4 linked regions of the Homo sapiens genome follow. The protein of the gene in region 3 purifies or fractionates together with the protein of the main gene of each other region. This does not show direct contact. Each region holds a gene or a part of one and is shown on either strand. Other genes may lie near its edges.

Region 1 (7,514 bases), on a different chromosome or scaffold from region 3:
CACTCTGTCGCCCAGGCTGGAGTGCAGTGGCGCGATCTTGGCTCATTGCAACCTCTGCCTCCTGGATTCAGGCGATTCTCATGCCCCAGCCTCCCAGGTGGCTGGGACTACAGGTGCATGCCATCACACCTGGCTAATTTTCGTATGTTTAGTAGAGACAGGGTTTCGCCATGTTGGCCAGCCTGGTCACGAACTCCTGGCCTCAAGTGAGTCATTGTGAGGCTCAAGTGAGCCTCCCAACCCCCTTTTCTTAACATTGTTTAGGATAATGGATTAGCTTGTTTATACTTATTTATTATTCCTTGCAACTTAAGAATGCTTCCATTGCTTTTCTTGAACATAATTTTGCAAAAACAAAATTATTTTGACACAAACTGGTCATTGAACATACTCTGATACAAAGAAAAATGACACTTAAAACATGACTTCAGAATTCTAAGTAAAAAAATTAAAACTCTTAAAACAAGCAGAAGTCTCTTTTGCTCACTGGGGACAGAAATAGGTATTCTATAAAGCTTAGTTTTTAGACTGGACATGGTGGCTCATGCTTGTAACCCCAGCACTTTGGGAAGCCAAGGTGGGTGGATCACTTGAGCCCAGGCATTTGAGACCAGCCAGGGCAACGTGGCTAATTTCCGTCTCTACTAGAAATCCAAAAAAATTAGCTGGGCATGTTGGCGTGCACCTGTAGTCCCAGCTACTCTAGGGGCTGAGATGGGAGGATTGCTTGAGCCCAGGAGGTTGAGGCTGCAGTGAACCATGATTGAGCCACTGCATTCTAGCCTGGGTGACAGAGCAAGACTCTGTCTCAAAAGACAAAAAAAAAAAACTGCATAGTCACTGGCAGTCTTTCCCAGGTACTTACGCTAAGATTGAATCACAGTTACTAAGAGCTTTTTCTTTCCTCCCATAGGCTCCGGCAGCTGTTGTGCCTCCCACAGGTCCTGGAATGGCACCAGTTCCTACAGGTGTCTTCACAGATATCCCAATCAGCAACATTCGTCGGGTAAGAGAATTACCATCATCTGGAATCAGCTGTTAGGGGCATCTTTAGGTTGTTTAGTTGCTTCCATAGTTTTTAACACATTAACAGAGGCTTTTTAAGTTGGGAATATTGGATGATTACTTTAAGGGAAGTTTTGGCCAACTGAATACTTGAATCACTTTGTTCCTATTAGAAGGGCCAGGCGCAGTAGCTCATGCCTGTAATCCCAGCACTTTGGGAGGCCAAAGCGGGCAGATCACAAGGTCCAGACTTCGAGACCAGCCTGGCCAACATAGTGAAACACCCCGTCTCTACTAAAGATACAAAAATTAGCCGGGCATGGTGGCACATGCCTGTAGTCCCAAGTACTCGGGACGCTGAGGCAGGAGAATTGCTTGAACTTGGGAAATGGAGGTTGTGGTGAGCCGAGATCGCACCACCGCACTCCAGCCTGGGCAACATAGCGAGACTCCATCTCAAAAAAAAAAAAAAATCTAGGAGGTGTTATATTATGGCGGAGTCCTCCATCTTTCAATTATAATAATGCTTGAGGTAAGTATTAGCAGAGAGTAAGGTGAAGAGACAAACAGAGCCCTAAATTAGTTAAGGTCTTAACTCAAGATAATTGATTTTTTAAATCTCTTTGGTTTCAGGTTATTGCACAGCGATTAATGCAATCAAAGCAAACCATACCTCATTATTACCTTTCTATCGATGTAAATATGGGAGAAGTTTTGTTGGTACGGAAAGAACTTAATAAGGTAAAAGTTCTGAAAATTCCAACTTTCTAAGTTATAAAAATTTTGTCTTTCCCCACCAAACATTTATATTTTTGTCCATATATTTTGTTACAATATATCAGTTGGTGGTTACTTTCTTGATCTTGTCCTTTGAAGCACAAGATTTTAAATATTGGTTATGTCCACTTTTATCAATTTTTTTCTTCTGTGCTTTTGGTATTATATCTAAGAAACTATTACCTAGTCTAAGGTCATGAAGATTTATACTTTTGTTTCCTTGTAACAGTTTTATACTTTTAGTTCTTATATTCAGGTCTTTGCTCTATTTTGAGTTAATTTTTTATAGGTGGTGTGAGATAGGAATCCAACCATTGTTTTGCATGTGGACATTTATTCTTTCATCCCAGCACCATCTTTCCCCATCGAATTGTCTTGGTATCCTTGTCAAAATTAATCATATATGTGAGAATTTTATTTCCAGATTTTTTTTTTTTTGTAGATCTTGTTATTTTTTGTTTTGTTTTGTTTTATTATACTTTAAGTTCTGGGATACATGTGCAGAACGTGCAGGTTTGTTACATAGGTATACACGTGCCATGGTGGTTTGCTGCACCCACCAACCCATCATCTACATTAGGTATTTCTCCTAATGCTATCCCTCCCCTTAGCCCCCCACCCCCCTACAGGTCCTGGTGTGTGATGTTTCCCTCCCTGTGTCCATGTGTTCTCATTGTTCAACTCCCACTTACAAGTGAGAACATGCGGTGTTTGGTTTTCTGTTCCTGTGTTAGTTTGCTGAGAATGATGGTTTCCAGCTTCATCCATGTCCCTGCAAAGGACACAAACTCATCCTTTTTTTTATGGCTGCATAGTATTCCATGGTGTGTATGTGCCACATTTTCTTTATCCAGTCTATCATTGATGGGCATTTGGCTTGGTTCCAAGTCTTTGCTATTGGGAACAGTGCTGCAGTAAACATATGTGTGCATGTGTCTTTATAGTAGAATGGTTTATAATCCTTTGGGTCTATACCCAGTAATGGGATTTCTGGGTCAAATGGTATTTCTGGTTCTAGATCCTTGAGGAACCGCCACACTGTCTTCCACAATGGGTTGAACTAATTTACACTCCTACCAACAGTGTAAAAGCGTTCCTATTTCTCCACATTCCAGCATCTGTTGTTTCCTGACTTTTTAGTGATCGCCATTGTAACTGGCGTGAGATGGTAACTCACTGTGGTTTTGATTTGCATTTCTTTAATGACCAGTGATGATGAGCTTTTTTTCATGTTTGTTGGCCACATAAATGTCTTCTTTTGAGAAGTGTCTGTTCATATCCTTTGCCCACTTTTTGATGGGGTCATTTGTTTTTTTCTTGTAAATTTGTTTAAGTTCCTTATAGATTCTGGATATTAGCCCTTTGTTAGATGGATAGATTTCAAAAATTTTCTCCCATTCTGTAGGTTGCCTGTTCACTCTGATGATAGTTTCTTTTGCTGTGCAGAAGCTCTTTAGTTTAATTCGACCCCATTTGTCTATTTTGGCTTTTGTTGCCATTGCTTTTGTTGTTTTAGTCATGAAGTCTTTGCCCATGCCTGTGTCCTGAATGGTATTGCCTAGGTTTTCTTCTAGGGTTTTTATGGTTTTAGGTCTTACGTTTAAGTCTTTAATCCATCTTCAGTTATTTTTTGTATAAGGTGTAAGGAAGGAGTCCAGTTTCAGTTTTCTACATATGGCTAGCCAGTTTTCCCAACATCATTGATTAAATAGGGAATCCTTTCCCCATTGCTTGTTGTTGTCAGGTTTGTCAAAAATCAGATGGTTGTAAATGTGTGGCATTATGTCTGAGGCTTCTGTTCTGTTCCATTGGTCTATATATCTGTTTTGGTACCAGTACCATGCTGTTTTGGTTACTGTAGCCTTATAGTATAGTTTGAAGTCAGGTAGCATGATGCCTCCAGCTTTGTTCTTTTTGCTTAGGATTGTCTTGGCTATACGGGCCCTTTTTTGGTTCCATATGAAATTTAAAGTAGTTTTTTTCTAATTCTGTGAAGAAAGTCAATGGTTGCTTGATGAAGATAGCATTGAATTTATAAATTACTTTGGGCAGTATGTCCATTTTCACGATATTGATTCTTCCTATGCATGAGCATGGAATGCTTTTCCATTTGTTTTTGTGTCCTCTCTTATTTCCTTGAGCAGTGGTTTGTAGTTCTCCTTGAAGAGGTCCTTCACATCCCTTGTAAGTTGTATTCCTAGGTATTCTATTCTTTTTATAGCAATTGTGAATAGGAATTCACTCACAATTTGGCTCTCTGTTTGTCTGTTATTGGCGTGTAGGAATGCTTGTGATTTTTGCACATTGATTTTGTATCCTGAGACTTCACTGAAGTTGCTTATCAGCTTAAGGAGATTTTGGACTGAGATGATGGGGTTTTCTAACTATACAATCATGTCATCTACAAACAGACAATTTGACTTCCTCTTTTTCTATTTGAATACTCTTTATTTCTTTCTCTTGCCTGATTGCCCTGGCCAGAACTTCCAATACTATGCTGAATAGGAGTGGTGAGAGAGAGCATCCTTGTCATGTGCCAATTTTTGAGACTGAGTCTCACTCTGTTGCCCAGACTGGGGTGCAGTGGCGTGATCTTGGCTTACTGCAACCTCCACCTTCCAGGTTCAAGCAATTCTCGTCCCTCAGCCTCCCGAGTAGCTGGGATTACAGGTATGAGCCACCAGGCATGGCTAATTTTTGTATTTTTAGTAGGGACAGGATTTCACCATGTTGGCCAGGCTGGTCTCGAACTCTTGACCTCAAATGATCCACCCACCTTGGCCTCCCAAAGTGCTGGAATTACAGCCATGAGCCCCCATGCCTGGCCTATTTCCAGGTTCTTAATTCCATTCCATTAATCTCTGTATACCCTTAATGTCAGTACCACAGTCTTGATTACTTTAGCTTTGTAATAAGTTGTAAAATCAGGAAACGTGAGTCATCTTTGTTCTTTTTTCTCAAGATTTTTTTTTTTTTTTTTTTTTTTTTTTAAAGACAGAGTCTTGCTCTGTCACCCAGGCTAGAGTGCAGTGGCGTGATCTTGGCTCACTGCCAGCTCTGCCTCCCGGGTTCATGCCATTCTCCTGCCTCAGCCTCCCAAGTAGCTGGGACTACAGACGCCCACCACCATGCCCGGCTAATTTTTTGTATTTTTAGTAGAGACGGGGTTTCACCGTGTTAGCCAGAATCAAGATTGTTTTGTCTGAGTCCCTTGCAATTCTAAGTGAATTTTAGGATTAGCTTGTAAATTTCTGCATTGAAGCCAGTTGACATTTTGATAAGGATTGATTGGATGTATCTGCTGATCAGTTTGGCAAGTGTTGCCATCCGAAGAATATAGTCTTTTCATCCATGAACATGTAGATGCCCCTGTATTAGTTAGGTGTTCTTCAGTCTCTTTCAACAGTTTTTTTATAGTTTTTCAGAGTGTAAGTTTTGCACTCTAAATTTGCATTTGTTAAACTTATTTCTAGGTATTTTATTCTTTTTGATACTACTCTAAGTGGAATTGTTTTCTAGATTTCATTTTCAGATTGTTCATTGCTACTATATAAAGGTATGATTGATTTTTTTTTTTTTTTAAGACTAGTCAGGTATACTAGTGAGAAGGGCGGAAGAGTAGAAAAGAAGTTAGATTTATAATGGACTCTGAGCAATCAATTGAGATAACAATTCATTTTTCTATATTGATCTTTTTTTTCATATACCTGCTGAAATGGGATCTATATTGACCTTGTATCCTGCAAACTTGCTGAAGTCATTTATTAGTTCTTACAGTTTTTTAGTGTATTTCTTAGGTTTTTCTGTAAACAAGATAATGTTATCTGCAAATAGAGATAATTTTACTTTTTTCATTTTGACCTGTATGCCTTTTATTTCCTTTCTTGCCTAATTGCTCTGGCTGGCGCCTCTAGGCAATGTTGAATAGGTGTAGCAGAAGTGAACATCTTGTCTTGTTCTCGATCTTTGGGAGAATAAGTCTTTGGTCATTAAATAGTTGTGAGGTTTCCATAGATCAGGTTGAGCAAGTTCCCTCCTGTTCCCAGTTAGTAAGAGTGTTTTGATCATGAAAAGGGGTATTGAATTTTATCAAATGCTCTTTCTGTGTCTGTTGAGATGATTATGTGTTTTTTGTCCTGTATTCTGTTAGGACATTATTACATTAATGGATTTTCAGATGTTAATGGAAATTTGCATTCTTGGGATAAATCAGATTTGATCATGGTGAATGATCCTTTTTATATATTGCTGGATTTTATTTGCTAGCGTTTTGTTGAAGATTTTTACATCTATATTCATAAGATATTAGTGTGTACTTTTTTTTTTTTTTCTTCTAATGTCGTCTTTGGTTTTGGTATCAGGCTAATCCCGGCCTTACAGAATGTGTGGGGAAGTGTTTCTTGCTCTTCTTTGATTTTTCTTTGAAAGAATTTGTGAGGAATTGATATTAATTCTTCTTTAATATTTGGTAGAATACTGACGAAGCCATTTGGGTCTAAGCTTTTCTACATGGGTAGTTTTTAAATTACCAGTTCAATCTCTTTGTTAGTTATAGGTCTATTCAGAGTTTTTGTTTCTCCTTGGTTCAGTTTTGGTAGCTTGTGTCTGTATGGTTGTTCATAGTATTCCCTATAATTCTTTTTACTTCTGTAAGGTAGATAGTAATGTCCCCTATTTCACTCCTAATTTTAGAAATTCTAGTCTTCTCTCCTCTTCTTGGTCAGTCTAACTAAACATTTATCATTGTGGTTGTCATTTGATTGATCTTTTCAAAGAACCAAATTTTGTTATTGTTGAGATGAATGAAAATGATGACATAACATACTGTAACTTATGGGATTATGCTAAAGCAGTGCTTAGCAGGAAACAGCTGTAAGAGTCCGCATTTAAAAAGATGAAAGAACCAATGTTTGGTTTCATTTCTTTCTTTCCACCTCAGGATATTTGTATATTCTCTTTCTCTTCCTCCTTTTCTCACGATTATACAGTTTTACTCTTTGGTGAGAGAATTTAGAAACTACAGTTGTCCGGGGAGGGAAAGCATTAGGAAAAATAGCTGATGCATGTGAGGCCTAATACCTGGGTGATGGGTTGACAGGTGCAGCAAACCACCATGGCACATGTTTACCTATATAATAAACCTGGACATTCTGCACATGCACCCTGAAACTTAAAATTAAAATTAAAATTAAAAAAGAAGAAACTACAGTTCTTCTTGTCTTTCCAGATATTAGAAGGGAGAAGCAAAATTTCTGTCAATGACTTCATCATAAAAGCTTCAGCTTTGGCATGTTTAAAAGTTCCCGAAGCAAATTCTTCTTGGATGGACACAGTTATAAGACAGTAAGTATAACTGGGGAAGATATATATCCATCGGTAGTTTTCTTGTATTATTTAATGTGTGAGTGGAGTTGAGGGGATAAGGAGAAATGGAATACAGAGAGGCAGATGACTTACATAGGTCAAACAACTTGAAAACAACACAAAAATGTTTATGAGTTACTGCTTTTTACTTTTTTTTCTTACTGGCCCCAATTTTCAACCTTGTTTTTGTTTTTGTTTTTGTTGTTGTTGTTGATTTATTTTTTAAAGAGATAGGGTCTTGCTCTGTTGTCCAGGCTGGTCTTGAACTCTTGGGCTCAAGCAATTCTACAGCCTCGGCCTCCCAAAGTTCTGGGATTTCAGGTGTGAGCCACAGTGTCCAGCCTGCGATATTGCTGGATTTAGCTAGT
Region 2 (7,514 bases), on a different chromosome or scaffold from region 3:
TGTGTCTGAACACATCTGTGCTGCAGAGAAAAATCCTTGCTGCGGTGTCCTCATTGCTCTTCCGATTCCTGAATTTTCTGACACTTCTCTTATCTTTCCTGTCTTTGCTTGAGACATAGTCAATTATTGTTACTTGCAACCAAAAGATGCTCAAATAATAGAGAAAATAAGTATTTATCTAACAATTTCTTATGTTAAATAAACACTTTGGGAGACAGCAAACTGTTTCCAGGCATCTTTGTAAATGGATACATTGTTAAACTCTGTGATTGATCATTACATTTGTTTTTATAAAATTTTATAATAAAAATTTTATAATAAAAATAAAATTTATTAAATGTAATAAAAATATTACATTAATGTCTCAAATATTACATGTCTCAAATATGTAATGACATTACATGTCATTACATGTCTCGTTACATTACATGACATTACATGTCTCATTACATTAATGTCTCAAATATTAATCATTTAGAAATATTGCATTTCCAATGGCATACAGATTTATCCAAAAATATTCCCTTCACACAAATCAAACTGAAATTCCCTTTTAGGTGTGTTTTTAGAACTGGTTTCCAAGTTAGAAAAGAAAATGTTTCATGTTTAAATGTCAATTCTTGGATTCAGGCTTTACTCTACACGTCTTTATTAAAGGCCTATGGCTTAACACGAGAGACCCACGGTTCCTAACGTCCACATAAATGAGAACAGGTGCACCCATGAAACAGCATGGCTGATGAAGCGGGGGAGTGGCTCTGGCCTGGAGTAACAGCACTTCATCCTGCCGGCAGCCCCACCACCAACTCACGGAGTGCCTTTGAGGAAGTGGCTTCATCACCCTTGGGCCTCGGTTTCCTCACCCACACAGTGAAGAGATTGAATGAGATTTTCTGCCTACTCTGAATTCAATCAAGAGGTGAGTCAAAAGGAAGTTTAGTAGGCTCTGATTGCTACTAAAAATAAAAATTCGATGTATTTACTTCTGTGTTCTACAACGAGAAATGGAATTGTTTATAGAAAAGCAGCCATGGAGGACTTCCTCCTCGTGCAGCAGGAACCTGGCAGTGACCGCTAACATGCTAAGGGTGGACTTGATTCTCTTTAGCTGTAAGGAATCACAAGTCCATTTTTTAAGAATACATGTGTTAAACTAGAATAATTTGACCAAAAATATTACTCAAATTGTTATCTGTACAGTGCTCTAGCATTTCTGAAGTATTTTCAGACATTAACAAGTCTGGGCCTCCACTCCTGGGATGGGCATTATCACTGTCCTTATTTTGCTTCTGAGAACATTGGGTACAGAAGAGTGACTTCCTTGAGGTTAACCTGTGATAAACTAGTCCTGATTCAAATCTGACTTTGACTCTCATGCTGATTCTAGCACCGTGCATGGCTCCTAGTGAATTGCTTAAAACCTTGCAGGTAGGCTGGGCACGGTGGCTCATGCCTGTAATCCCAGTACTTTGGGAGGCCGAGGCGGGCGGATCACCTGAGGTCAGGAGTTCAAGACCAGCCTCACCAACATGGAGAAACCCCGTCTCTACTAAAAATACAAAATTAGCCAGGTGTGGTGGCGCGTGCCTGTAATCCCAGCTACTCGGGTGGCTAACGCAGGAGAATTGCTTGAACCCGGGAGGCGAAGGTTGCAGTGAGCAGAGATTGCGCCATTGCACTCCAGCTTGGGCGAAACTCCATCTCGAAAAAACAAAACAAAACAAACAAACAAAAACCTTGCAGGTAAATTACAATCCTAAAATTCACTGTAGGGCAAAACAAGAAACTTGAAGTAAGCATCCTGGTTTACCTGGAGGAAAATCAGAAGCATGAGAACTTGGTAGTGCAAATACCCGTGGCTCCTGCAGATCCCTTCATTCAGGCAAAGAAGCCCAGCAATTAAGACTTTTTCGCTCTCTCCTCCCGTGAGACCATGAGCGTTTCTTTCACCTTCTATGGCTTTCTCAGTTGTAAGACCCCCACAGAGCTGGGAGGACAGCACACTCCTGGCATGTTAGGCGTTCAGGGAAGACCAGCAGCAACGCCAGGTCCTGACCATGAGGAGGCCTCCGGGTGCCAGGCGGTGGTCAAGGATGCTGGTTTTGGAGCCAGATGCAGGGCGTTGGCCTTGTGCAAGTCAGGTCCCTGGCTGGAGTCTCAGCACCTTCATCAGGAAAAGCAGCCATTTTTTGGCAGGGTTGTCATAAAATATGAAGTATGCAGTGCTAGCAATGTCTAGCATATAGGAGGCAATAAATGGTGGCTATATTGATATACATACACCACGACACTGAGTACCTTTATTTAAAGTTGCCTGCTGAAACAAGCATTTTCTTGTTTCGTAGAAAATTCTACTTTAATATAAAATATTATACCATTGAAGAGTTTGGATGTGTAACTTGTGATGCCTTAGAAAAATATCCTAAGGGGCTAGGTGCTGTAGCTCATGCCTGTAATCCCAGCACTTTGGGAGGCTGAGGCGGGTGGATCACCTGAGGTCAGGAGTTCGAGACCAGCCTCACCAACATGGAGAAACCCCGTCTCTACTAAAAATACAAAATTAGCTGGGTGTGGCGTGGTGGCGCCTGCCTGTAATCCCAGCTACTTGGGAGGCTGAGGCAGGAAAATCTCTTGAACCCAGGAGACGGAGGCTGCAGTGAGCCAAGATTGCGCCATTACACTCCAGCCTGGGCAACAAGAGCAAAAATCCGTCTCAAAAAAAAAAAAGGAAAAAAGAAAAAGAAAAAAATCCTAAGCACAAAATAAATTTTTCTAACCACTTCAAAAAAAAAAAAAGAAAAAAAGAAAATTTCTACTTTAGCCAGGCACGGTGGCTCACACCTGTAGTCCCAGCACTTTGGGAAGCTGAGGCAGGTGGATCACCAGAGGTCAGGAGTTCAAGACCAGCCTGGCCAACATGGTAAAACCCTGTCTCTACTAAAAATACAAAAATTAGCCGGGTTTGGTGGCACACGCCTGTAATCCCAGCTACTCGGGAGGCTGCAGCAGGTGAATAGCTTGAACCCAGGAGGCGAAGGTTGCAGTGAGCCGAGATCGTGCCATTGCACTCCAGCCTGGGCAACAAGAGCAAGACTCTGTCTCAAAAAAAAAAAAAAAAGAAAAGAAAAAAGAAAAAGAAAAATTTTACTTTAATGGAGTTTACTGGCTCCAGTCAAGATTTAACCTGGGCTGGGCGTGGCGGCTCACACCTGTAATCCCAGCACTTTAGGAGGCTGAGGCGGGCGGATCACGAGATCGGGAGTTTGTGACCGTCTGGCCAACATGGTGCGACTCTATCTCTACCAAAAATACAAAAAAATTAGCTGGGCGTAGTGGTGCATGCCTCTAATCCCAGCAACTCGGGAGGCTGAGGCAGGAGAATCGCTGAACCCAGGAGGCAGAGGTTGCAGTGAGTTAAGATCAGGCCACTACACCCCAGCCTGGGTGACAGAGCAAGACACCGTCTCAGGGGAAACAAAAAAAAAAAAAAAAAAGATTTAACCTGTTACTCAGTTTGTAGTAGCTTCTTTTCAGATTGGGGTTTTTAATTGGAAAAATACCAACCCCATCTTTATGAACAGTCAAGTAATACAGAGTATTTGAGGTAAGGAAAGAGAACTGGCCTAATGATTTTCTTCATTCCAGTTATAGAATTCCTCTCATTCTTTTGGTGGCACAGGGGGCACAGCTCACTAATGTTTGGTTTGTTAGAAAAAAATGTAATAGTTGGATTCTCACTGATGAGCTGCTTAAAAAACAAAGACGGAATAGTTAAAATAAATACTCTGAAACAAAGCCCCTCATAAAAAGCCTCAGGAGGCAATTTTGACTTAGTAACACAACACACATTTGCTCTCCCACCTCCTTCCCATTAGCGGTGTCTTCCTAAGCCCTCCACGAGTTCACAATGAGAGCCTGTGCAGAGAACACGAGTGCCTCAAGAAATGCAGTCACGGACTAGCAATTTTTCCAGATTAAAAAAACCCCGGAAATCTAGCCCCCAAGGTGCTGAGAACTGCCTGGACTCTGCGATGAAAGAGGCACATTCTACACGCTAAAATGGAGAGGGAGGCAGACAGTATCAATAAAACCTCTCTCCATATATGCCAAGGATTCTAGAGCCATAAATTACATTAGATAGAAGGAAAAAAGCTAGATGTCCTCGAGAGCACATCATGTCTTTAGAAGTGCACAGATGAAGCTCTTAATCATTTTGCCTAAGAAAAAGATTTAATACTTTAATGAAATATTGAAGTGTTCAGGTAAGTTCCAGGTAACTTATTACCTGGAACACTACATAAATGTGAACTACAAAAGGATATCACAACTAAATGTGTACTCTTTCTAAAATAATATATAATAAGAGGAAATGGCTTTTACTTTGATAAATGCTTTATTCAGCATTGGCAACCACCGACAGTCTCAAGTATTGAGACAACTCACATAGCTCTAATCACACCAAAAGAGAACCACCAGCCAACGTCCCAGTCACTGGCAAGTGCGTGCCTGCAGGTCTGTGACTCCTGCAGCACCTCTCTCAGCACCTGGGGAGCCTGTCCCAGGAACACCATGGCTGCTCAACACTTCCTTGAACATACAACGTTTCTTTAGTCCAGTTTACAATAGAAAGTATTATATCATAACGAAAACACTTTGGACCCTTTATCTGAACTGTAATAACTTGGTTATTATACAACAAATATGCATTGAACATCTAAGTAAAAGCAACTGTTCTATATTAGATCGCTTTTCAGTAATCTATTTTTCAAAAAGAATTCAGTACCATTTTTGTCCTCATGTCGGGATTCCAGGATCTTTCTATTGTATCTAATCATGATCTAAATCCCAAATCTTGAGTGTTTTAAGTACTTATCTGTGATTTTTTTTTAATGTCCACTGGAAATAACAAGAGTGATTTAAGACTGCCAGTCCAACACGACTCTGTATTGTATCTATTTTTTTTTAAAGAATAAGTGGCTACCCACCTGTCCTTATGAGAAACTTGAAGAAAGCTAGAGAAAAATTATCCAACATTTGAATATGCCAGTGCATTTATTTATTGGAACCACCCTCTGTGAAACATACTTTAAAAGTGTAGAACTATAGACCAACTGTTAAGCAATTTATTCAAGATCAAGCCCTTAAAGGACAGGGCTGGGCTCCTAGATTGCAAGGCTTGGCCTCTGAGCCATCTCTCTTCACCAGTTGTCTACACCAAAACTGAATATGAAGAAATCCAGGATGAGCAACTGCATTTCATTGAATCTTCATTTCTATAACTTAATTTGCATTATTACCTCCAATTAATATAGAAGTGAAAAATTAGCATGAAATTTTATATAAGCAAAGACTCAAGCTATTTTTATTGTCACTGGATGTTTATTAAGTATTTTAGTTTCATAACTTATTTTCATAAACCTTTTGTTCACTATTTGTTTGGGTAAATCTCATCAAATTTAAACACCCGAGACTCTTAAATGTTCTGGAGTTTTGTGGGAAAATAAACACCTATTTGTAAGTATTGATATGTAAAAAGTTCAAATTTTAGTATATGACCAACTACAATTTGCATTTCTCTACCAAGTAACCCTCTATAATGGAATTTCACTGTAAAACAGACACTTATGTCCAGCACAAATAAAGTTCACAATAATTGTTTATCACAAGTAAACAATCAGCAAACTTAATGTTTTACTTATAATAAATACATGCCATATACTTAGATTCTAGAAAGTCATCACTCACTACTTCTTTGTGGTAGGTAGCTTCACAGAGACTGTGAAACAGATCATGGAAAGAAACTGATTTTACCATGTGCGAAGTTAAAGGGAACCACGTATCACTCAGCGCACGGTGGCTCACGCCTGTAATCCCAGCACTGTGGGAGGCCGAGGTGGGCGGATCATGGTCAAGAGCTCGAGACCATACTGGCCAACATGGTGAAAACCCATCTCTACTAAAAATACAAAAATTAGCTGGGCATGGTGGCACGCACCTGTAGTCCCAGCTACTCGGGAGGCTGAGGCAAGAGAATCGCTTGAACCCGAGAGGCAGAGGTTGCAGTGAGCCAAGACTGGGCCACTGCACTCTAGCCTGGAGACAGAGTGAGACTCCATCTCAGAAAAAAAAAAAAAAAAAAAAATGAAAACTCCAGCCGGGCACGGTGGCTCACACCTGTAATCCCAGCACTTTGGAAGGCTGAGGCAGGTGGATCACCTGAGGTCGGGAGTGCGAGACCAGCCATGACCAACATGGAGAAACCGCGTCTCTACTGAAAATACAAAATTAGCCAGGCGTGGTGGTGCATGCCTGTAATCCTAGCTACTGGGGAGGCTGAGGCAGGACAATCGCTTGAACCTGGGAGGCGGAGGTTGCGGTGAGCCAAGATTGCGCTATTGCACTCCAGCCTGGAACTCAATCTCAAAAAAATAAAAAATAATAAATGAAAACTCCACTGACCCTTTCAATATGTGGGCAAATCAATGTTAGATGCTAGTCTAAATCAGAGGTCAGCAAACCCTTTCTGCAGAGGGCCAGAAAATAGTTTTGGCTTGTCAAGTCAAATGGTTTCAGGTGCAACTATTGAACTCTGCCGTTTTGCAAAAGCAGTCAGACAATACATACGCACATAAGCACGGCTGTGTTCCGCTGAAACTTTATTTATGGACACTAGAATTTAAACTTCATATAATCTTCAAACAGATGGTGGGCTGAACTTGACAAGTGGGCAGTAATTTCCTGACCCAGGGTCTGAATACAGATTCTTTTTTGACACGTATTTATTTGCTGGCAATTAAGTAACTTCTACTTCATTATTAATAATAAGTGAGAACAATAATACAAAATTTGCTTAAGGCTTTGTCTAAATTGCTGGTGTATAAATTTTTAAGACAAATTTTAAAAGTTACTTATGTCAAAATTAAATATACTACTAGAGGAACAAACTGGCCAAGTTTCATTTATTTCTTCACGTAACATTTTTACAGCTCACATACAGCAGGAAGCACACCTTTGCACATAATTGTGACATTAGCTTCACAACAGCATCTGCTGACTGCACTTCCAATTATAATATAACAAGTGCAAGTTCATTTGGAAATGTACATTTATACACCTGATATAAATTAAAGATGGGTACACTATGATTGGTGATAGCAAAAGCATGACTTGAGGTTCCTTGACTAGACCACTTAAGAGAAGTGTACCCAAGCATTTTAAAATGGCCATTTGGGGAACAGGCCAATAGATAAAATATCTGTCATGTAAAATTTAACCATTTACCTTTTTAAAAAATAATCTTCAAACTTTAAACCTTTGTTACTGAATTGTTATATGGATATACATCATGGCAGCAAGAAACACATTTACTATAGGCTGTATTTTTGGCGACATGGCCAATTAAAAAAAATTGTTCATAAAGTAATAATATTACTTGTATTAAAATAAAAAAGCTAAATGAAATATTTTCCTTCCACATTTAATGTGTTAGGTTGAGTTTAGTCCCCCTCCTCCCG
Region 3 (7,514 bases):
CGCTGTCACCACTGGGCATTGGCAATTGGTTCAGGGGGAACGGCGCGGAACCAATGGGAGCGGTGGCTCGGGAGAGACCTTGGAGCGCGCGGGAAAGAGACCAATATAAACTGTGGCGGGATAGTTTTCGGGTCCTTGTCCAGTGAAACACCCTCGGCTGGGAAGTCAGTTCGTTCTCTCCTCTCCTCTCTTCTTGTTTGAACATGGTGCGGACTAAAGCAGACAGTGTTCCAGGCACTTACAGAAAAGGTGAGGCGATCGAGTGTGGTACTGGAGGGCGGGGGGGTCCTCCCGGCAGCCTGGCCACGGGCGACAGACGCCAGAGGTCCCCCTGGGCCCTGTGCGCCAAACTCATCTAGCTAGCCAGGGAGTAGCCGCCTGGCCCCTTTACCTAGAAGAGGAAGTCGCAGGGGCAGGGTAAGGTTATCCTGCTGTTCTGGATCGCCAGGCTCTCCTCTCCAAGCTGCTGGGGTCCAGGACTCGGTGTCGGAACCCTCCTGCCCCTTCTGAACACCCTTTTTTGCCTCTCTTCACAGTGGTGGCTGCTCGAGCCCCCAGAAAGGTGCTTGGTTCTTCCACCTCTGCCACTAATTCGACATCAGTTTCATCGAGGAAAGGTAAGAAGAGCCCTCCTAAAGTTAGGGGATCAGTCCTGGCACCTGCAAGCCCCTGGCTTGCCATGAATTTCTTTTTCTTGAGGTACTCACGCCCGAATTTCTTCCTTGCCCTGTGATATAATAAGAGAGGCTGGGCCTTTTGGCCGGCTAGGGTAGAGGTGGGGGGGAGGTCTCATGGAAGGGAATTTCAAGCCTTGGAGTTAAGGACCGACACACCTTATCTTCAAGCCTATTTTTCTTTTCTTTTCTTTTTTTAGACAGGGCCTCTCTTTGTTGCTCAGGTTGGAGTGCAGTGGTGCAATCACTGGTCACTACATCCTCCACTTATGGGGCTTAAGCAATCCTCCCACCTCAGCCTCCAAAGTAGCTGGGGCTACAGGTACATGCCACCACGCCGGGCTTTTTTTTCTATTTTTTGTAGAGATGGGGGTCTCACTATGTTGCCTAAGCTGGTCTCAAACTCCTGGGCTCAAACAATCCTCCTACTGGGATTACAGGCATGAGCCACCACAGCCAGCCTATCAATTTTTGTTTTTTGGTTTAGTATTTTCCTTTTTCTTTCTCTTTCTTTTTTTGAGACAGAGTCTTGCACTGTTGCCCAGGCTGCAGTGCAACGGTGTGATCTTGGTTCACTGCAACCTCCGCCTCTCGGGTTCACACGATTCTCCTGCCTCTGCCTCCTGAGTAGCTGGGATTACAGGTGCACGCCACCACACCCAGCTAATTTTTTTGTATTTTTAGTAGAGATGGGGTTTCACTATGTTGGCCAGACTGATCTCAAACTCCTGACCTCATGATCTGCCTGCCTCAGCTTCCCAAAGTGATGGGAACACAGACGTGATCCACCACGCCCAGCTATTATTTTTCTTAATAATAACAGAGGCTATTTAAATATTGTTAGAGGCTATTTAAAAGCCCCCTTAGTAGATTAAGGGTTTGAACAATCGTTAACAGTGCTGAGTGCTCATTGCAATGTCTACTAAACTTTAATAAAAATGTTTTTGTTTTTGTTTGCTTGTTTTTCCTTTCTTCCTTACTCTTTTTTGTTTGTTTGTTTGTTTGAGTATGATGTCTGTGGGTTTTCTCCAACTTTGCAGCTCCTAATACTGTCTTTGGGAGAGTAGGAGTGAAACCCGGCAAAGGAAATAGCTTCACGCTGCTCCTTCTGTGCGTGGAGTAGATGAGAAAATGCCCTGCCATCTGGTGCCTCATTCCTTTCAGTAGGAAATTTGGCAGACAGGGAGATTAACGCTACAAGATTTAATTAAGAACATAAAGGTGAACACTGTTTAGGACTTCATGGGTTTTAAAGTCAATTCAAATTTCTCCCTATTATAAACATTTCATTAGAAAACATTTACTATTTCTATCTCTTCAGATAAAAGGAAATAGAAGTTGATGAATTTTTTTAGAGTAACTTATACCCTGTACCACTAGACTAAGTTTCTTTTTCTTTTCTTTTTTCTTTTTTTTTTTTGAGACAGGGTCTCACTCTGTTGCCCAGGCTTGAGTGCAGTGGTGCAATCACAGCTTACTGCAGATTTGACCCCAGGGTTCAAATGATCCTCCCACTTCAGGCTCTTCCCAAGTAGCTGGGACTGTAGGCGCATGCCACCACACGCCCGCCTAATTTTTGTGTTTTTTGTAGAGATGGGGTTTCATCACATTGCCCAGGCTGGTCTCGAACTCCTGGGCTGAAGCAATCCTCCCGCCTCAGCCTACCAAAGTGCTGGGATTACAGACGTGAGCCACCACGCCTGGCCTGATGAAATTTCATTAGAGCCGCATCTCATCGTCTGGTCCACTGTTGAATCACCAGAGCCAACTAAATAGGCCCTTACTGAATATATGTTGAATAAATGCATCCTTTAAGGCATTTTAAAAATCTCTATTTTTAATCCGAATAATTGGATGTATGAAATGGGTAATATCCTTATTTTAAAGATAAGGAAATTTAATATCTGGTTATATAACTTGATAAAGGTCACACAACTAAATCAGTGGAGTTGGGTTTGAACCTGTTGCTGCTATATTTTTTTTTTTTTCTGAGACACAGTCTCGCTCTGTCACCCAGGCTGGAGTGCAGTGGCATGAACTCGGCTCACTGCAACCTCCGCCTCCCGGGTTCAAGCAATTCTTCTGCCTCAGCCTCCTAAGTAGCTGGGATTACAGGCATGCGCCACCATGCCTGGCTAAATTTTGTATCTTTAGTGGAGGCAGGGTTTCACCATGTTGGCCAGGCTGTTCTCAAATGCCTGACCTCATGATCCAACTGCCTCGGCCTCACAAAGTGCTGGGATTACAGGCGTGAGCCACTGCGCCCAGCTGCTGCTGTATGTTTTCTAGTAGTAAAAGCATTCCTGTAAGGTTCCTTTGGGAAAACTGTGAACCAAAAGATCACTATCTTTTATATGCCATTCCTTCTTTTGGAGGCGAAGGCGGGACGGTTGCCTCAGCCAGGAGTTTGAGACCAGCCTGGACAACGTGGCAAAACCCCATTGCTATTTTTATAAATGTAAATAAATAAGTAGAAACAATATAACTTCAGAGTCTATATGGAAACAACTTTTGTAAGCATTCTTTAACAACTAGAGTTGTTAAAGCAAATGTTTTAGCTTAAAGCAAAAGATTTGCAGTAACTGAATAATTTGTTCCTGGTCATTACTTTATAAAAAGGCAAGAATTTTCCCTCAATTTCTCCTTATATTACTGTTGAAAAATAACCAGGAATTGGCCGGGCAGGGTGGCTCACACTTGTAATCCCAGCACTTTGGGAGGCCAAGGCGGGCGGATCATGAGGTCAGGAGATCGAGACCATCCTAGCATGGTGAAACCCTGTCTCTACTAAAAGTACAAAAAATTAGCCAGGTGTGGTGGCGGGCGCCTGTAGTCCCAACTGCTCGGGAGGCTGAGGCAGGAGAATGGCATGAACCCGGGAGGCGGAGCTTGCAGTGAGCCAAGATCGTGCCACTGCACTGCAGCCTGGGTGACAGAGTGAGACTCTGTCTCCCCCCCAAAAAAACAAAAACAAAACAAAAATTAGCTGGGCGTGGTGGCGGGCGCCTGTAATCCCTGCTACTCGGGAGGCTGAGGCAGGAGAATCACTTGAATCCGGGAGGCAGAGGTTACAGTAAGCCAAGATTGCGCCACTGCACTCCAGCCTGGGTGACAGAGCTAGACTTTGAAAAAAAAAAAAAAAAAAAAAAAAAACACCAGGAATTGGACTTCTCTTATGAACTGAAAAGGAGCCAGGTGCTTTGAAAAATGGAATCTACTTTTGTGGAGACTTTCACATTGCCTCTTATATGTGCTTTAACTAAATGACCTTAGTAAGTAAAATGTTGGCACTTTATACTACATGGTCCTATCTTATGTTAGGAAAAAGTGTGTCAAACTTCAGTATGTCAGTACATACAAGAATATATATATATATATATATATATATATATATATATATATATATATATATTTTTTTTTTTTTTTTTTTGAGACAGAGTCTCGCTCTGTTGCCAGACTGGAGTGTGCAGTGGCGGCGCAATCTTGGCTCACTGCAACCTCCGACTCGCTGGTTCAAGTGATTCTCCTGCCTCAGCCTCCCAAGTAGCTGGGAATACAGGCACGTGCCGCCACACCCAGCTAATTTTTGTATTTTTAGTAGAGACGGGGGTTTCACCATGTTGTCCAGGTTGGTCTCGAACTCCTGACCTTGTGATCCACCCTCCTCAGCCTCCCAAAGTGCTGGGATTACAGGCGTGAGCCACTGGACCCGGCAAGAGTATTTGAATAGCTCTGCTTGTGGACAAAATATAAAAATATTTTTCAGTTGTAAAAATTCTGTTACTACTGTTATTGCTAAGATAACCATCACACTGAGTTTATTGGTGGAATACAGCTTTATTGTGTCACATTTTCTAATTCTTTAAGTTGTATATCTTAAATAAAGATTATTTAATACCTTTGAGAATTTGATGTTAAAGAAGGAATTAAGTTGTTTAAGGAATAGAGATTGTATTATTAGCACTTATCTAGTTCCATCTGTTTATATTTTACAGCTGAAAATAAATATGCAGGAGGGAACCCCGTTTGCGTGCGCCCAACTCCCAAGTGGCAAAAAGGAATTGGAGAATTCTTTAGGTTGTCCCCTAAAGATTCTGAAAAAGAGAATCAGATTCCTGAAGAGGCAGGAAGCAGTGGCTTAGGAAAAGCAAAGAGAAAGTAAGTTTTTATATTCTGGAATATAAAGAAAATATTTATCTCACGCCTGTAATCCCAGCACTTTGGGAGGCCGAGGCGGGAGGATCACTTGAGGCCAGGAGTTCAAAACCAGCCTGTCCAACATGGTGGAACCCTGTCTCTACTAAAAATACAAAATTAGCTCGGCGTGCTGGTGCACACCTGTTGTCCTAGCTATTTGGGAGGCTCAAACAAAAGAATTGCTTGGTGCAGCAAACCACCATGCACACATATACCTATATAACAAACTTGCATGTAATGCACATGTATCTCATTTTCACGCCACTGCCCTCCAGTCTGGGGGACAGAGTGAGACTCTGTCTCAAATAAAAAATTAATTAATTAATTAATAAAGAAAATATCTTGAAAATAAAGGACAAATAGGATATTGAGTCAAGTTTCTCTTCAAGCTCATAAGAAAATGCAAAAAAAGTTTTTAAAAACTTCTTCTAATTTCTTATTATAACTCACTCCCAAATTTCTTTTCTTTTTTTTTTCCTGAGACGGAGTCTTGCTCTGTTGCCCAGGCTAGAGGGCAGTGGCGCTATCTCAGCTCACTGCAACCTCCGCCTCCCAGGTTCAAGCAATTTTCCTGCCTCAGCCTCCCAAGTAGCTGGGATTACAGGCACACGCCACCACGCCCAGCTAATTTTTGTATTTTTAGTAGAGACAGGGTTTTGCCTTGTTGGCCAGGCTGGTCTTGAACTCTTGACTTTGTGATCTACCCACCTTAGCCTCCCAAAGTACTGGGATTACAGGCGTGAGCCACTGCATCCAGCCAGCAAATTTCAAACATTAGTAAAAAGTATTCTTTTTACTCTTCCCAATCTCTCAAAGAGGATCAGTTCCCATTCACATAAGTGCTATGTCATTAACCATGAACTTAGTGTATTGAGTCTTTAATTCTTACTGTCTTTTTCCTTTAGGCTTTTCTTACAAGGCAATTTCCTTGTTGGCTTATATAACTTGAATTCCATTAATCCTGTCCCTTAAAAAACTACCAGTTCAACTTGCACAAGAAATATATAACCAGGCTGTGTGCGGTGGCTCATGCCTGTAATCCTAGCACTTTGGGAGGCTACAGTGGGCAGATCGCTTGAGCTCAGGAGTTCCAGACCAGCCTGGGCAACATGGTGAAACCCCTTCTCTACCAAAAGGGTGGCGGCGCCGCCTATAATCCCAGCCACTAGGGAGGCTGAGGTGGGAGAATTGCTTGACCCTGGGAGATGAAGGTTGCAGTGAGCCGAGATCCCGCCACTGTACTCCAGCATGGGTGGCAGAGTGAGGACCTGTCTCAAAAATAGGCCTGGCACAGTGGCTCACCTCTGTAATCCCAGCACTTTGAGAGTCCAAGGCAGGCAGATCACAAGATCAAGAGATCGAGACCATCCTGCAACATGGTGAAACCCCGTCTCTACTAAAAATACAAAAAATTAGCCGGGCGTGGTGGCACGTGCCTGTAATCTCAGCTACTCGGGAGGCTGAAGCAGGAGAATTGCTTGAACCTGAAAGGTGTTGGTTGCAGTGAGCTGAGATCGCACCACTGCACTCCAGCCTGGGGGACAGAGCGAGACTCCATCTCAAAAAAAATCAAGTAAAATAAAAATAAAAATATGACCAATATGGAAAAGTTGGAAAATATAGAAATCCCCATCACCTAGAACCAACTAGGAATAATACCATGGTGTATTGTCTTTACAACTTCTCTGTAAGTACGTAAGAATAGTGAAAAACAAAAAGTAGGGATAAAACTACACACACCAAACTTGGTGTGCAACCTTTAAAAAAAAGTTTCCGAGTTTCATCCGTTGTATTTCATGAATATCTCATTCCTTTTTTCCTTTTTTTCTTTCTTTCTTCCTTTTTTTTTTTTTTTTTGATATGGGGGTCTCACTCTGTCACCCAGGCTGTAATGCAGTGGCCCAATGTTCGCTCACTTCAACCTCTGCCTCCTGGGTTCGATTGATTCTCCCACCTCAGCCTTCCAAGTAGCTGGAATTACAGGCATGTGCCATGGAGTTCAGCTAATTTTTTGTGTTTTTGGTAGAGATGAGGTTTTGCCACGTTGCCTAGGCCGGTCTCAAACTCCGGAGCTCAAGTAATCCACTTGCCTTGGCCTCCCACTGTGCTGGGATTACAGGCATAAGCTGCCACACCTGGCCAGTGTGCAAACTTTTTTTTTTTTTGAGACGGAGTTTCGCTCTGTTGCCCAGGCTGGAGTGCAGTGGTGCAATCTCGGCTCACTGCAACCTCCACCTCCCGGGTTCACACCAGTCTCCTCCCTCACCCTCCCAAGTAGCTGGGACTACAGGCGCCCGCCACCACGCCTGGCTAATTTTGTTGTATTTTTAGTAGAGATGGGATTTCACCGTGTTAGCCAGGATTGTCTCAATCTGACCTCATGATCTGCCCGCCTCGGCCTCCCAAAGTGCTGGGATTACAGGCGAGTGCAACCACACCCGGCCACAAACTTTTTAAGAAGTTAATGAAACCATACCTTTTACATTTTTAATGACAGGAAAATGCTCACAATAATTGTTAACCCAAAATTCTGGATACAAAAGTACAATCTTTACTGTGTAAATACATGTATATGTACTATATGAAAATATACCAAATATCAATAATACTTATCTCTGGGTAAAAACCTCTTCTCATACCCTG
Region 4 (7,514 bases), on a different chromosome or scaffold from region 3:
ACAATAGATGAAACTAAGTCCAGTTTTTTGGCGATTTTTTTTTTAAAGTGTCCTCACTACCACCTTCAGCTATCAATCATTTCTGATAGCTCAAGCAGAAGGTCATCTTCATCTTTCCCAGGATCCAGGTCAATCTCAGCTTCCAATTTGCCTCCTGAAATCTCCCATATTAGTTTCTCAAAATCATCCTCCACAGAGAGTGGGGGCTTTCCTGTTGAGGCAGAGCTGAGTCGGCGAGTTTTCATGCTCATTTGGGATGAGGAAGGGCCAGACACCTCCGGGGGTGAGGAATCTGAAGAGGACTGGGTTGGAGGCAGCACAAGACTGTAAGAAAAAAAAGATTATTAGAAAACTGCCGTTTTAAAAATAGTTGGCTGAATCACCTAGTCTCACGGACACAAAGTGAGCAAAAATTTGTTTTTAAGAACATACATAAAGAAATAATTCTTTTACTGATTTGGGATCAAGCTTTTTTTTTTTTTTTTTTTTTTTTTTTGAGGCAGAGTCTCCCTTTGTCACCCAGGCTGGAGTGTAGTGGTACAATCATGGCTCACTGCAGCCTCGACCTCCTGGGCTCAAGCGATCATTTTGCCTCCGCCTCCCAAGTAGCTGGGTCTACAGGTGTGTGTCACCATGTGATTTTTTTTTTATTTCTTTGATTTTTATTAGAGACAAGACCTCACTATGTTGTCCAGGCTGGTCTTGAACTCCTGAGCTCAAGTGATTCTCCAGCCCCAGTCTCCCAAAATGTTGGGATTACAGGCATAAGCCGCCTTGCCTGGCCAGCACCAAGCATTTTTATAACTCAAAGTAGGTGTTAAAGACATCTTTCAGGGGCCGGGCATGGTAGCTCATGCCTGTAATCCCAGCACTTTGGGAAGACGAGGAAGGTGGATCACTTGACGTCAGGAGTTTGAGACCACCCTGGACAATGTGGCAAAACCCTGTCACTACTAAAAATACAAAAATTAGCTAGGCCTTGTGGCAGGCACCTGTAATCCCAGCTACTTGGGAAGCTGAGGCAGGAGAATTGCTTGAACCCGGGAAGTGGAGGTTGCAGTGAGCAGAGATTGTGCCACTGCACTCCAGTCTGGGTGACACAGTGAGACGCTGCCTCAAACAAAAAAACAAAAAAACATCTTTTAGGTAATATAGCAAAATGTAAACAATGGCACCAAAGAAGAACAGCAACCCTAGATTTTCATACTTTCTTGCAATTAATTTGAAGTGCAACAGATTTATTTGAATGTTGCTAAAGTTATTTATCAGTGTTATTCTCTAGAGAGCCTAAACAGTAACAGGGGCCTGGAGTTTGTTTAGAAAGAATTACAAAGTATTACCTGTCTCTAGGATTTTCTGCTTCAGGCACAGTGACTGATTTGTCCTCAGAGACAAGCGGGACAACAGCCTACAAAAGGAAGAGTCAGGTAATTCAGTGAGAGTCAGGCTTTTTAATTTGAGCATATTCATTTTCTTTTGCTGCCTTCTTAGAATTGTGGCTATGATTCTTTAAGCCTGTGAATCTAAGAATCGATAATCTAAAGGTTGAGTATATAAATAAGCAAAATATCTTGCCACCTAAAAATTAGCTTTTAAAAAATCCTGTCCTGCTACTTCACAAATATCAAACTGTAAGTATAAAATACAGTAGTAACCCAAATTACTAAAATGCTAGGAAATGCCAGGAAGTGATATACTCAAGATAGAATGCTAGTGGAGAGTTAGTCTTTCCTGCTTTCCTACCACACAGAATAAAGCACCACAAAGTGAATATACTTCTTACCACAGCTGCCTTTTTGGCTGGGGGTTCCTGTAGGACACTGCTGGAGCTGAGTGGCTTCACAGCGGCAATGACAGCAGCGTGCATCTCCACTGCCTTACGTTTTGGGGCCAATTTGGGGGATGACACAACTTTAACCACAGATGGCTTCACGTTCACTTTGGGTTTAGCTACAAAGGGCAGAAAATATCTGATAAGCAGTGAGAATAGACTCTTTTAAATGGGGAATAATTCAGAATAAAATATCAAAACTCCTTCAGTACTAGAAATACCACAAATAATTCATTTAAAAAGAGACTGAAAACGATTCAAAGGCAATTTGTGGTCACATGGTGGTCACTACAGGTGGTCACCATGTAGATACAATACCACTTAAATTTGTTACCATTCCTCTATTCCTTGTTTTTATTCAATACCAGAGGAAAGATGCACCATAGAAAGTTTTACACAAAGCTTTTTAAATAGCAATTTTAAATTCTGAGAAAAGAATTCATCTCGTTTTGCCTCTGTATAAAAATATCAGAAATATTACTATCTACCTGTGGATAGAAGGCAAATGAAATTCAACCCAATTGTTGCCAGGAAGTTACTGGCAACAATTGGGTTGAATTTGGTAATTTTGATAACCTAAAGCAATACACAGTATAGAAATACTTGCCTTTACCCCTTTTTTCCAAGGTCTGTGCTGCACATTTCACATTCAATAATGAGTCTCCAATCCCTGAGGTTTCTACCTCCACCTTCTGGGATGACTTTGTGGGAAGCCGCTTGGTCAGGTGCCGTGTGATTCCTGGCACAGCAGTGAGCACTGGTTTCTCTGCCACTTGGGTATTGCAAGAGGCTACATCTCCCCGAAGAGGTGTCAAGACTGATTTTTCCCTCTCCTGCTGTTTCTGCATGTGCTTCTCTCTCATGGTCTCACATCTCTTGACTTGAATTTTAGTGATGTCAACTCCTGTGGTCTCACCTGAAGCCTGTGGATAAATTTGAATGACAGAATTAAAATCTGGTACCTCTAATAACCTGTATGATGTAAGTACCAGGCTAACATCTAAGTTAAGCAGAATCTCACATGATCCAGAATCTGAGAGAAAAGCTCTTTATTTGATGTTAAATAGACAATACCCTGTTAAAGATGAAAGATTAGAATTACAGATGTATGGAATAATAAAAAACCCAGATTCCACAGGCTAGACAACCATGACTCTAAGTCAAATACTAATGATTCCTAAATAATCAAATACCTGCACAAAGATTTATGTACAAATATATTACTTTAAATTGTGTAAAACAAAATCTGAATGTCCAGAAAAAGACTGTATTTGTATAATGGAGAATCATGTGGTCAGTAAAAACAAACTTCTTGAAGAATTATTAACATGGTAAAGTTAAAGCAGGCTGTAAAATGATACACTGTAGAGTTCTCCATTATGTTCTAAACATGGGTTTAACATTAAACAAATTCACATGCATGCATATATAAACAAAAAGGTCGAAGAAGGCCAAGTGTGGTGGCTCACACATGTAATCCCAACACGTTGGGAGGCCAAGGCAGGCAGATCACTTGAAGCCAGAAGTTCGAGACCACTCTGGACAACATGGAGAAACTCTGTCTCTACTAAAAATACAAAAATTAGTCAGGCTTGGTGGTGCATGCCTTTGATCCCAGCTACATGGGAGGCTGAGGCACAAGAATCGCTTGAACCCAGGAGGCAAAGGTTGCAGTGAACCGAGATCATGCCACTGCACTCCAGCCTGGGCAACAGAGCAAGACTGAAAAAGCTCGAAGAAATCCATGGAAAAGATAATGATGGTTACATCTGAGCTGTATATTTTTAGGGTTTGTTCAGTTTTAAAAAAAATAAAATTTCCAACTTTTGTATGATGCATAGCATTAGAAAAAACTCAGTTAAAAAAAAGTAATGGCCAATTAAACAAAAAACTTTATTTTTTGTATTTTTAGTAGAGACGGGGTTTCACCGTGTTAGCCAGGACGGTCTCAATCTCCTGACCTCGTGATCCGCCCGCCTCAGCCTCCCAAAGTGCTGGGATTACAGGCGTGAGCCACCGCGCCCGGCAAACAAAAAACTTTAAAAGGGCAGCGAATACTGATATACATAGAACTACAGGAAATTCTCATAAGAAATTATAAGTAAAAAGAAAGACTGTTTACCTAATATATGAATGAAGTACTTAGAAATTTATTGTAAGGTAAAACTACCAATTATCTAGCCTTTGTTTGCCATGAACAAAACCATACAATAATCTTAAATTTACCTCTTTAGCTTCTGTTCTAATACTGCTCTGAGAATCAACTTCATTTCCTTCCTGAAGGTTCTTCTCTTCTTTCATCCCTGTATTCACATTAAAGACATCATTAGTTATTTTATTTAAGCTGCAACTTCATGATAGATATGTTAAACAAAACTTTATTTAATGAAAGTAGTAAGACAGGACAAATAAAATTACAGATAAAGCCCATCTGTGCTCCTAAAGTCTCAAAATACACATTAAAATAGCAAAGGTTGGCCGGGCATGGTGGCTCACACCTGTAACCCCAGCACTTTGGGAGACTGAAGCAAGCAGATCACACTTGAGGTGAGGAGTTTGAGACCAGCCTGGCCAACATGCTGAAACCCCATCTCTATTAAAAATACAAAAATTAGCGGGGTGTGGTGGCACATGTCTGTAGCCCCAGCTACTTGGGAGGCTGAGGCAGGAGAATCACTTGAACCTAGGAGGTGGAGGCTACAGTGAGCCAAGGTCATGCCACTGCACTGCAGCCTGGGTGACAGAGTGAGACTCTGTCTCAAAAATAAAATAAAACAAAATAGCATAGGTCTACATAGCACTACTGAAAAACTTCATTTAATTCAGTGTTTTCAACGTTATCTGAGTAAAGAAAGGTTGTCAAACAACTCCTAGGAAGATCCCACGGAACACTCCTCTGGAATATTATGTGGGGACGTGGTACTAGAGACCAAGTTCTCTTGTTACCTGTTCTTTTGGTGATTCGCAGCAGCCGCCTTGCCCCTGGAGTGGCCTCGTGTTGAGACGGGGAGCTGGTGCTGCTCTCAGAGCTCTGCTGCACCCTCAGTGCCTTCTCCAGTTTAATTTCTTCCAGCGTCTTGATGTGCACCTCCTGCATAGACTTTGTTTTACCTGCAGGCTCCTCTGATTGTCCTCTGCTGGCAACAATGGGTGGCAAAACTACTGTTTTTTTAATTTCACTATCAATCTTTAGCTTGATGCAAGTTGTATCCTTTTTGCTTTTTTGTCTCTCTGCTTCCTGCTGCCGATGTTTTTTTTCAGCCAGGACCTCAGAGAAGGTTTTGATACGGATAGTGGAGGAGCTTCTTGCTCCTGAAGTAGAATCATCAGTTTTTGAAGGTCCTTCTGTCTTGAGTTTAGTTTGCAATTCTCCACGTTTCTGACTGGCTCTTTCAAGAAGAATTTCTTCTAATGTCTTCACATGGATCTCACCAACTTTATTAACTTTATCTGTTTTCACAGGAGAAAAACATGTCATTATACTTGAAGTTCATCTCTTACTGACTTATGATCTCTCTATTCTTGGATCAAGACAGTCCAACAGAGAGCTATCATTTAAGCAGGCAATTAAAAGGATCAAAAGGGTAACATTTATTTCTTTTCCTTTTTTTCTTTTTCTTTTTTTTTTTAAGACAGAGTCTCACTCTGTTACCCAGGCTGGAGTGCAGTGGTATAATCTCAGCTCACTGCAACCTCTGCCTCCCAGGGTTCAAGTGATTCTCCTGCCTCAGCCTCCCAAGTAGCTGGGACTACAGGTACCCACCACCAAGCCCGGCTAATTGTTTCTATTTCAATTTTAGATTACTGCAAGTTCCAGGCAGTGGTCCTCAAGGAAAACTCTTTGGAGGCAAAAATTGATTTGTATTTCTATTCAGAAGCTTATTCTTCAGAAACTGAAAGCCATTTACTAGTTGGATAAATTTGTCATTATAAATCTTAACAAAAATAGCAATAAATTCTTCATTAACTTATGGCTATAAACATGTAATGAACACTGGGCTAGAAATACAATGGTAAGCAAAATAAAATCTCTGTCCACATGTAATTTACAGTCTAACAGATCAATAATTAAACTAGCTATAGCAGAGTATGGTAATGATAACTGCTTTGATAAGGTAGGTATAATGCTATAAAAGGACACAGCAGGAACACCTACACTTGTCTACAAGGAAATGATATTAAATTTAAAGGATAAAAAGAAGGTAAAACAGGTGACAAGATAGAAGAAAAATGCAGAAGGCCCAGAAATTGGCATGCCACTGAAGAGCTATTTTCAATGATACATTAATCGTTCTATATCTGTCTAAACTGAAGACCAAATGTCACACTTCACAGATAGAACCATTCTCATTACTGAAGGGCTAAGAAAATAAATAATGAAAAGAGATAGTGCTATGAAATAAATGATAATTTGGAGATCATACACATATATATGTAATCACTGAATAACAGCTTTTAATGAACCCCCCCCCCAAAAAAATTATATCTTTTCAAAATCTTTTTTTTTTTTTTTTTTTTGGTAAAGACGAGGTCTTGTTATGTGGCCCAGGCTGGTCTCCAAACTCCTGGCTTCAAGTGATCCTTCTGCCTCAGCCAATCAAAGTGCTGGGATTACAGGTGTGAGCCACCATACCCAGTCTGAAATCTTAAAATATACTGTGTTCTGTCTCACTTTCCAAACTCCTGAGTATACTATTCCCTCTACTTGGAGTATTCCGTGCTGTTCTCATTTCTCTTGCTACCTGTGTTTTTTGTTTGCTTGTTTTTTGAGACAGAGTTTTGCTCTGTTGCCCAGGCTGGAGTGTGCAGTGGTGTCATCTTGACTCACCGCAACCTACATCTCCTGGGTTCAAGTGATTCTCTGCCTCAGCCTCCCAAGTAGCTGGGCCTACAGGTGCCCACGACCACGCCTGGCTAATTTTTGTATTTTTTGTAGAGACAGGGTTTTGCCATGTTGGCCAGGCTGGTCTCAAAACTCCTGGTCTCAAGAGATTTACCTGCCTGGCCTCCCAAAGTGCTGGGATTACAGGCGTGAGCCACCACGCCAGGCCTGGTTAGTTTCAACTGAATTCAGCTTAAAACCTGATACCCTCCAATTTAGTTTTTCTGATCAAAGCACTGAACACTCAGTACACTGTAATTGCATCTTCAACCACACTAAAGACTTCATGAGAACAACGACTGTATTTAGGTACCTGTAATATTGCAAAGGAAGCACTCACTTACTGAATTAGTTCTTCAAGTTCTTTAATAAAAAATCACAAATTCTTTCAATCCAAGGTGGCAAACATTTCAAAATTACCACTCCAAGAAAGTACAACATGAATGGTGACATAGAGGCCCTGTTTCCCTCCCCTACCAAAATTTCATTGAAATGATAAAACATTAAAAATAAAATAAATCCACACCAGCAATGAGAAATAAGGATGTCACTGGCAGAGCATACATCTTGAAGAATTTCTAAAACAGAAAGCAGATGTCTGAATTTACAGAAAAATGGAAAAATAATAGTTAAAACCATAGGCGTGAGTTCTGTTCCTCCCAATACAGTCAAAGGAAACTGTCAAACTTGGGTTAACTAATATTAAAAGCAACGGTGGGATCTGACATAACCATTAGGGTAGAAATTTAAGGACTGCCTATAGAACAGTTGGGCCAGTCATGACCTCCTCCTGAGAACTGC

What was found.
Region 1: the proteins of PCLAF (region 3) and DLAT purify together in Homo sapiens (affinity purification with mass spectrometry, with the first as the bait; one large-scale study listed by BioGRID). This does not show direct contact.
Region 2: the proteins of PCLAF (region 3) and ING1 purify together in Homo sapiens (affinity purification with western blotting, with the first as the bait; one study listed by BioGRID). This does not show direct contact.
Region 4: the proteins of PCLAF (region 3) and ZC3H11A purify together in Homo sapiens (affinity purification with mass spectrometry, with the first as the bait; one large-scale study listed by BioGRID). This does not show direct contact.

Annotation. Positions count from the first base shown.
Region 1 is NC_000011.10:112,044,225-112,051,738, forward strand, and holds part of DLAT (dihydrolipoyllysine-residue acetyltransferase component of pyruvate dehydrogenase complex, mitochondrial isoform 2 precursor), read left to right. Parts: intron 1-913; coding exon 914-1,006; intron 1,007-1,638; coding exon 1,639-1,746; intron 1,747-6,991; coding exon of another isoform or gene 6,992-7,009; coding exon 7,010-7,125; intron 7,126-7,514.
Region 2 is NC_000013.11:110,720,200-110,727,713, reverse strand, and holds the end of ING1 (inhibitor of growth protein 1), read right to left. Parts: 3' UTR 4,375-7,514; downstream 1-4,374. UniProt on the Homo sapiens protein: Cooperates with p53/TP53 in the negative regulatory pathway of cell growth by modulating p53-dependent transcriptional activation. Implicated as a tumor suppressor gene.
Region 3 is NC_000015.10:64,374,061-64,381,574, reverse strand, and holds the start of PCLAF (PCNA-associated factor), read left to right. Parts: upstream 1-133; 5' UTR 134-203; coding exon 204-249; intron 250-536; coding exon 537-617; intron 618-4,669; coding exon 4,670-4,832; intron 4,833-7,514. UniProt on the Homo sapiens protein: PCNA-binding protein that acts as a regulator of DNA repair during DNA replication.
Region 4 is NC_000001.11:203,844,951-203,852,464, reverse strand, and holds part of ZC3H11A (zinc finger CCCH domain-containing protein 11A), read right to left. Parts: intron 5,282-7,514; coding exon 4,778-5,281; intron 4,135-4,777; coding exon 4,058-4,134; intron 2,755-4,057; coding exon 2,439-2,754; intron 1,951-2,438; coding exon 1,784-1,950; intron 1,409-1,783; coding exon 1,341-1,408; intron 325-1,340; coding exon 66-324; 3' UTR 1-65. UniProt on the Homo sapiens protein: Through its association with TREX complex components, may participate in the export and post-transcriptional coordination of selected mRNA transcripts, including those required to maintain the metabolic processes in embryonic cells.